Linked DNA regions of Homo sapiens. The protein of the gene in region 1 purifies or fractionates together with the protein of each later gene. This does not show direct contact. Each region holds a gene or a part of one and is shown in the gene's direction. Other genes may lie near its edges.

Region 1 (4,412 bases):
ACACATGCAAACACACACCTAAACAGATACAGCAATGGATGCTCACACAGATGTTTAGGGTAAAATATACACGCAGAGAAAGGCATACAAATTCATGATAACCCCATTTACCATGGGGACAATTCTATAAGGGCTTAAAATCATTGCTTCATGTATAAAGGCATCAAAAGACCACATTTGTTCCTCAGGATCATGGTCTTCCTTGTGTATACACAGTAATGAAACTTATATGACTCTCAAGTATCAGAAATCCAGTGCTCCTACCAGCCATAAAAATCGATTTGTGAGGACTGAGTCACCTAAGAAGCATTTGTGAAATTGTGAATACTGCTGAAGGTTGCACTTGCATGCTGTCGGCGATGGGCAGTCAGTGACGAGGGTGAAGGCAGTAGAGAGAATAAAGACACGCTCTTTATGGAGCAGCTGGGAGCCATCTCTGTGCAGTGTGGCCATCCCAGACAGGCCGACATTTAGGACACTGACAAAATAGTCCTGATGCTTCCCCTGGTGAAGGCAATCCCAGGTTGTCATTGAGGAATATCATGGCACATCCCACGTGCATTGCTGGGATGGGGAAGTCAAGGCGTAGGGCAGTTTCATCACCCTGGCCAGAGAACCCCAGGTTCAGCTGCAGAGGAGTGATTGCCAAGGATGCAGTGGAGGGGGTGGGACCCATAGAGCCTCGGGGACCAGCTCACAAGTTCTGTGTTTAGACTCATGCAGAGGAGGATGATCTTCCAAGGGCTGAGGTTGAAGGGGTGTCAAACTCCAATGGAAAAGGTTTAGGAAAAGACCTTTTACAAATCCAAAGATGTTTCACAGTGGGCGAGGCTGGTGTGGCGACAGTAGTGGCCCACATGGCTGGGTTGGGAGCCAGCTCTGCCCATGAGGTGCCGTGTGGCTTTGCAGTGTGGCCTCACAATCCCAGCTTTGTTTCTTCCCCAGGGAGATGAGGCTGGTGATGCTCAAGATCTCAGAGGCCCTGCCCAGGCTGAGTATCTGTATATAATATCCCCCTTGGGGAGGTAACCTTCTTGTGGTTATGACCTTTTTCTGCATGCGCCCTACAATACTTAGGAGTCTGCCTCCTACAGCTGGGCGATGTAGCTCAGTTGTCAGGCACTCTGACTAGAGAGTCAGACTGATGAGGGTTTGAATCTATCATCCTGCTCAGAAAAATGGGCATGATACCAGTGCCCCTCTCAAAGGGGTGCAGTGAGGACATGAGTAACTAGAAGCATCCATAAGAGCTTGGTCAGTAGAAGGCTCTTGTGGAAGAGGAGCTCCCAGAACCCGGTGGATTGGGTGCAGAGCAGCTGCTATGATGAACGATATAGATGTTTCCCTTTGTTGTATTCCAACTGGGTAACAATGGGCCTGCTGTTCTGGGAGGGGCCTGAGGGTGGTCCATCAGAGCACATCGGTCCAAGCACACTCGAAGGGCAGACATCTCTTTGGCAGGACGTCTGGAACATGGACAGGGATCTGAATGAAGATGACAGTAAGTAGAGCCTCAAAGATGGCACGGAAGACTGTGTGGAGATATTTTAGCCTGCATTTGAAGAGGACCTAATCTGACCTCTAATATGTTGGAAGTTATGTATCCATAGTCTTTTCTAATAAGCTCTGTAGCTAGCACTGTGTGAACTCTTCCATCTGCCCTAAATGCAGTCCTGGGTCTGCATCTGGATTGCCGAGAGCACCCCTTCCTTCCTTCCTTCCTCTCGTGTGTAAAGCCTACCTGTAGCTTGCGATCTCTTCTTCCGTTATGAGCCTTTGGACAATGGAGAAGGAAGGTGAAAGATGAAATTGAGAACTTTTCTCTCTATCACAGTGACACCATGCAAACCTTATATTCTTTTCCCTTTTTCTTCTTTTCTCTAGTTGACAGTGTCTCCTGCTCCCAGCCAAATCTAAGTGAGATTTTCAGGATTCTTATTTCAATCACAATTGGATTCAGTTCTTAGATGATGTTAACTCTACAGAAAGGTCGGGAAAAGGCTTCACTCGTGATCTTTCTCTAGCAAACGGCCAGTTCGTTCATTATCGCTTATGAAACATAGCCCAGGTGACCCCATCCTGTCACTACCGGGACAGAAATACAATGGATTCTCAGAGCTATTTAAAAACATGAAGGAAATGGTATTTCAGGAAGAAATGTGCTATGTTTTAAAAAGGGAAATTTTTGAATCCGAATTTGAAACAGGCAGTGCAGAGGGGTGGTGGTTGCCGGTGGCGGGGAGTGGGGAGGGGAAGAGCATGAGACTGAGAAGTGGGAGGCCAGGGTTCAAGTCCTGGCTCTGCTCTGAATTGGCTGTGTGATCTTGGGCAAATCACTTAACCTCTCTGAGCTGCAATATTCTCATCTATAAAACGAGATTGGTTTAGGTCTCAATCTGAGGACCATGAGGGTGTGGGCAAAATGCTTTTTGAGCATGCTTTTTGGGAGATGTAGAGAGAGGTCTATAGCTTTCATTTGAATCCAGAGAGATCCATGACACTAACACAACTTCATAGTCACCAGACTTGATGACACTGGAGCTTCTTTGCAGGCATAACACTCTTTCTTGTCTTTAATGTTGATATCTTAAAGCTTTAAGTTTTAGACCTGAAGCAGAATATGAAATTAACCTATACTAAACTTAGAGAGCTCAATTTAAATTTTGTTGGAATCTTTTTTCATATTGAAGTGAAAGACTGCCTGGAGATATTTTAGCATGTATTGGAGGAGGGCTTAATCTGACCTCTAATATATTGGAAATTGTATATCCATACTCTTGTTCTAATAAGCTTCAAATAACATTCTAATGCAATCTTTTTTCTTCAAAACACTGTTTATTAGCAGTCTTTCCATTTATGATTAGAGTTTCTCATAGTAGCAATGGACTAGGTCAGATCTGGACTCAAACCTATGCTCTGCCTCCTAGTTTCTGGGTGACTTTGCTCAAGTCACTTAACCTCTCTGAATTTCATTTCCCATAATTTTTTTTAAAGGGATGGTGTCATCTTGCAGGATTGATCAAAGATTCGTTGGCTACAAAGTGCCTAATACATCACCAGCCCAGAGTAGACATGGAGTCAATATTGACTCTACGAAATGATCAGGTCCCCAGAACTTTAAAAGTAAACTGCTATTAATGGGAAATATTATCTTCTGTGAAGTTCCTGTTTTGACCTCATGCCTTTTGGTGAGCAAGGTGAGAGAAAAGTGAAGTCTTTGGGCCCATTACAAGTCTAGGAACCCTGAGTCTTTCATAGGGTTGTCCTGAGTGCTGGTCTCAGATGTGATGGAACTCAGGTGAGCACTTGGGGTTCACTGCAAGGTATAGAGGCACCCAGGGAAACTTTTAGAAAAAGTTAATGAAATCAGAAACCAGGTAGATTTTTTTTTCCCCAAGTGTCAGAAAGGGAGCCTGCTACAGGCCTTACATAATTTAAATGTGCCTGTTTAGGGGAGAGGTGATTGCCCATTTTATCCAATCGAGTTAATGTTCCAGGCACTATAGTGTTGTCCCATCACTTTTCAGGTCTATAATATGAGTGACTTCAGGGGGAGAAAACCTTTCTCCAGTGATACGTTTTGGGACAAAAGTGCATGGATAGGAACGTTCTGGGATGTGGCACCCATGTGCAAATCTCCTCAAGGAGGCCTTTGACCATCACCTTCAGGTGCTGGCTGTCTACAGCATCCCTGACCAGGGCAGCATCTCCTACTTTGGCTGGACCACTTCCAGTGATGGTCTGGTTCTATTTCTATAGTCGAGACTGTCCAAAATTCTTTCTTACATTGAATCGCTATCTCTCTCCCTGGAGCTTCTACTCTTTGGTCTTGATTCCAGGCTGCAAGTCTACTCAGAATGTCTGTTCCCTGTTTAAGATAAGAGCCCTGTAAGTCTTTTCTTTTCTAGCCTAACCAGATCCTGTTTCTTCAACAATCCTAGAGGTAATCACTCTTTTCTTAAAGTGCAGTGTCCTAGCACAGAGCGGAAGAGAAAAAAATCCCCTCCCTTATTCTATATACCATATCTTTTGTGATAGAACTTACTTCTTTGATTGCAGACTGAAACCTTTTCCAGAAATGGTGAGCAAAAGCCTCTTCAAGTAAGATGGGCTATAAATACAGTCTCTGGTAATTTTAGGAGGCAGCTTTTCTGGTCTAGGACTATAAGACATGGGTTGTACCTTTTTACTCCTGGGCATGAGTTCCTGTGGACCCCCGTCCACAGGGGCAGGATTGAGATCACGAGTGAGAGCCCTGGTCTGGGGCCACATCGCCATCACCACCCCTGACCCAGTGCTGAGCAGCTGGGACTCTCCCTTGGTACCCAGGCCAGCTCTGCTCCCAGAAGTCTTGTTCATAGAATGCCCCTGCCCTCCACGACTAGGGATGGAAAATTGATACTAGCTTTCAG
Region 2 (3,500 bases), on another chromosome or scaffold:
ATACCCAACTTGGCACAAAAGGAAATTCTGATGTGTCTTGCTTGTTTTATTTTTAAAAGTGAGTATTAGGAGATTTCTTGTCTTGAGTTGGGGATGCCACCAGAAAATTAGTGGCCCAAATTTGTGTGCCCTGTTTGGCCTCTGAAAATTATTACTGGACTAAGTAGGTATTGTAGCTAGAGTATTTTGCCCTGCTAAAATGATGCTTAGCCTGAAAAATCGGAGCACCACTTCTCAAATTTATTTTTCCAACTCAGTAATTAAAAAAACATTTACTTCCTGCCTACTGGGTTGTGGAATATTGTCAGGATCTCTGGGTTCCAGGTGAGGGATGCAGAATGCAGGGAAAGACAGGTCCCCTGCCCTCCAGAAGTCGGTGGCGCCTTTTCAGAGTAACACACACTGGAGCAGACCCCTGGAAAAGGACAGTCCACTGGTGGACCATGACCTTGGTCAAAAGAGGGACCAGGTCTGGCTTGCTCACTGTTTTGCACCCAAGAAGTATTTGCTCAGGGAATGAGGGGGTTAGATTCCTCCTCATTCATTACCATTCTTACTAGGCAGAGGCCTCATTGGGATTAAAAGACAGGAATGTAACTCTCTGCCCACTGATAGGGAATGTGTGTTTGCTCTTTGTATCCCAGGGGTGTGATACCTCTTTCCTGTGGTCACTCTGCACTTAAGATATTTTGGGGCCTGGCACGGTGGCTCACGCCTGTAGTTCCAACACTTTGGGAGGCCAAGGTGACCGATCATCTGAGGTCCTGAGTTCGAGACCATCCTGCCCAACATGGTGAAACCCCATCTCTACTAAAAATACAAAAATTAGCCAGGCCTGGTGGTACGTGCCTGTAATCCCAGCTACTTGGGAGGCTGAGGCAAGAGAATCGCTTGAACCCGGGAGGCAGAGGTTGCAGTGAGCAGAGATCACACCATCGCACTCCAGCCTGGGCGACACAGCGAGACTCCATCTCACACACACACACACACAAAGTTATTTTGATTTGTGCATTTCCGAAAAGATATAAAAACCATCTTGTGCTTCCTTGCCCAATATCCCAACCCCCACCTTCAAAACGTTGGTGGATTTTTCAAAAAGCTTTTTATGGAAGTTTAACATATACAGCAAAGTGAATATAAGTATGCAGCTTGATGAATTTTCTCAAACTGGATACTAGCAAAAAGTATGATTCTTTGAGTATTTTGTCAACTCTGGTTGATCTGTGTGAGTGGAGGGAAGCAGTGATGGTGAATATTTATTTTTTAAAGCACACATAAATATAATCTCCTCAGAGGCTGGGCACATTGGCTCACGCCTGTAATCCCAGCACTTTGGGAGACCGAGGCAGGCATATCACTTGAGGTCAGGAGTTTGAGACCAGCTTGGCCAACATGGTGAAACCCCGTCTCTACTAAAAATACAAAATTAGGGCCAGGTGCGGTGGCTCACACCTGTAATCCCGGCACTTTGGGACGCCAAGGTGGGCAGATCACGAGGTCAAGAGATCGAGACCATCCTGGCCAACATGGTGAAACCCTGTCTCTACTAAAAATACAACAGATTAGCCAGGCGTGGTGGCAGGTGCCTGTAATCCCAGCTACTTAGGAGACTGAGGCAGGAGAATCGCTTGAACCCAGGAGGCGGAGGTTGCAGTGAGCCGAGATCATGCCTTTGCACCAGCCTGGGCAAAAAGAGTGAAACTGTGTCAAAAAAAAAAAATACAAAATTAGCTGGGCGTGGTGGCGCATGCCTATAATTCCAGCTACTTGGGAGGCTGAGGCAGGAGGATCACTGGAACTCAGGAGGCGGAGGTTCCATTGAGCTGAGATTGTGCCACTGCACTTCATCCTGGGCGACAGAGCGAAACTCTATCTGAAAAAAAAAAAAAAAAAAAAAATCGGCCGGACATAGTGACTCATGCCTGTAATCCCAGCACTTTGGGAGGCTGAGGCATGTGGATCACCTGAGGTCAGGAGCTTGAGACCAGCCTGGCCAACATGGTGAAACCCCGTCTCTACAAAAATACAAAAATTACCCTGGCGTGGTCGCAGGCGCCTGTAATGCCAGCTACTCAGGAGGCTGAGGCAGGAGAATCGCTTGAACCCAGGAGGTGGAAGTTGCAGTGAGCTGAGATCGTGCCACTGCACTCCAGCCTGGCCAACAGAGTGAGATGCTGTCTCAAAAAAATAAAATAAAAAAATAAGGCAGGGCGCGGTGGCTCACGCCTGTAATCCCAGCACTGTGGGAGGCCAAGGTGGGCGGATCACGAGGTCAGGAGATCGAGACCATCCTGGCTAACACGGTGAAACCCCGTCTCTACTAAAAATACAAAAAAAATTAGCCGGGCATGGTGGCGGGCACCTGTCGTCCCAGTTGCTGGGGAGGCTGAGGCAGGAGAATGGCGTGAACTTGGGAGATGGAGCTTGCAGTGAGCCGAGATCGCGCTACTGCACTCCAGCCTGGCCAACAGAGCGAGACTCCCTCTCAAAAAAAAAAGAAAAAAAAAAAAAACTTCTCAGCTTTGGGAAATACTTTATGAGAGAGAGAAATTTATTATCTTTGTTATTTTTGTTAAGTAGATGCTATAAGTTTGTATCTCCTGAGCCCACATTAGTCAATGTAGAGGGACAGCTGAAAATTAAACTTTTGTTGTGGTTAATTAACACAGGAAATTGACTGCATTATAAATCTGTGAAGTGAGACTCACCAGTAGTGGATAGGTTCCATACACTGAACATTTCCAGTAATGATTTTGTTAAAACAAGCCAGAGGGAGATTGCACTGGAAGATTTAAGGAATGACAGCCGGGTATTCTGAGCGCTGGCTGTATTTTAGAGTCACTTGCAGAGATTTAAAAAAACAAAAAACAAATCTGTGCTGCCGTCACCTGCAGATATTCTCAGTCACTGGGTTTTAGTTGGAGTGACTCAAAAATCTGTGTTTTAAAAAGGTCTTCCCTGGTGATCTGGATGCTCACCCCAGGTTGAAAGTCTCTGTCTTCAACACGGTAAATATGTGCCTGCTCAGACAGTCTGGTGATACTTTCACACTGGCAAAATGGAAAACAAACCCTATCGGAGAAAATCACATAGAACTCTCCTCTGAGGCTAATGTAAACAGTTCTACATCTTGTTTATAACATTTTCCCATATTTGCTTTGTGCCATCAGCATCAAGATCTGGTATGGAGTGAATGCTAATGAAAGATCTGTTCTCCCCATCTCTCACTCCCTCTCCCACTCCCCTCCAACCCCAATTCCACAATTTCTCTCAGGATTACAAGGCAGAGGAAGACCCAGCAAAATTTAAATCTATCAAAACAGGCCGAGGACCCTTGGGCCCCAATTGGAAGGTACCATTCACACCTTCACTGCCAGGGGGCTGGGCAGCATGTGGGTGGGCCGCTCCCTGTGGAGGAGGGGCATGGCTGGGGTGAGCTGGGGACGGCCTGAGGTCTGCCCGTTGTTACTTGCGTACCCATGGGTATGTTTCTAATGCAG

The links. Proteins that work in one complex are often made in the same cells at the same time.
Region 2: the proteins of SSUH2 (region 1) and PITPNA purify together in Homo sapiens (affinity purification with mass spectrometry; one large-scale study listed by BioGRID and IntAct). This does not show direct contact.

Annotation. Positions count from the first base shown.
Region 1 is NC_000003.12:8,641,820-8,646,231, reverse strand, and holds the start of SSUH2 (protein SSUH2 homolog), read left to right. Parts: upstream 1-1,433; 5' UTR 1,434-1,473; coding exon 1,474-1,501; intron 1,502-4,412. UniProt on the Homo sapiens protein: Plays a role in odontogenesis.
Region 2 is NC_000017.11:1,535,293-1,538,792, reverse strand, and holds part of PITPNA (phosphatidylinositol transfer protein alpha isoform), read left to right. Parts: intron 1-3,274; coding exon 3,275-3,352; intron 3,353-3,500. UniProt on the Homo sapiens protein: Catalyzes the transfer of phosphatidylinositol (PI) and phosphatidylcholine (PC) between membranes. Shows a preference for PI and PC containing shorter saturated or monosaturated acyl chains at the sn-1 and sn-2 positions.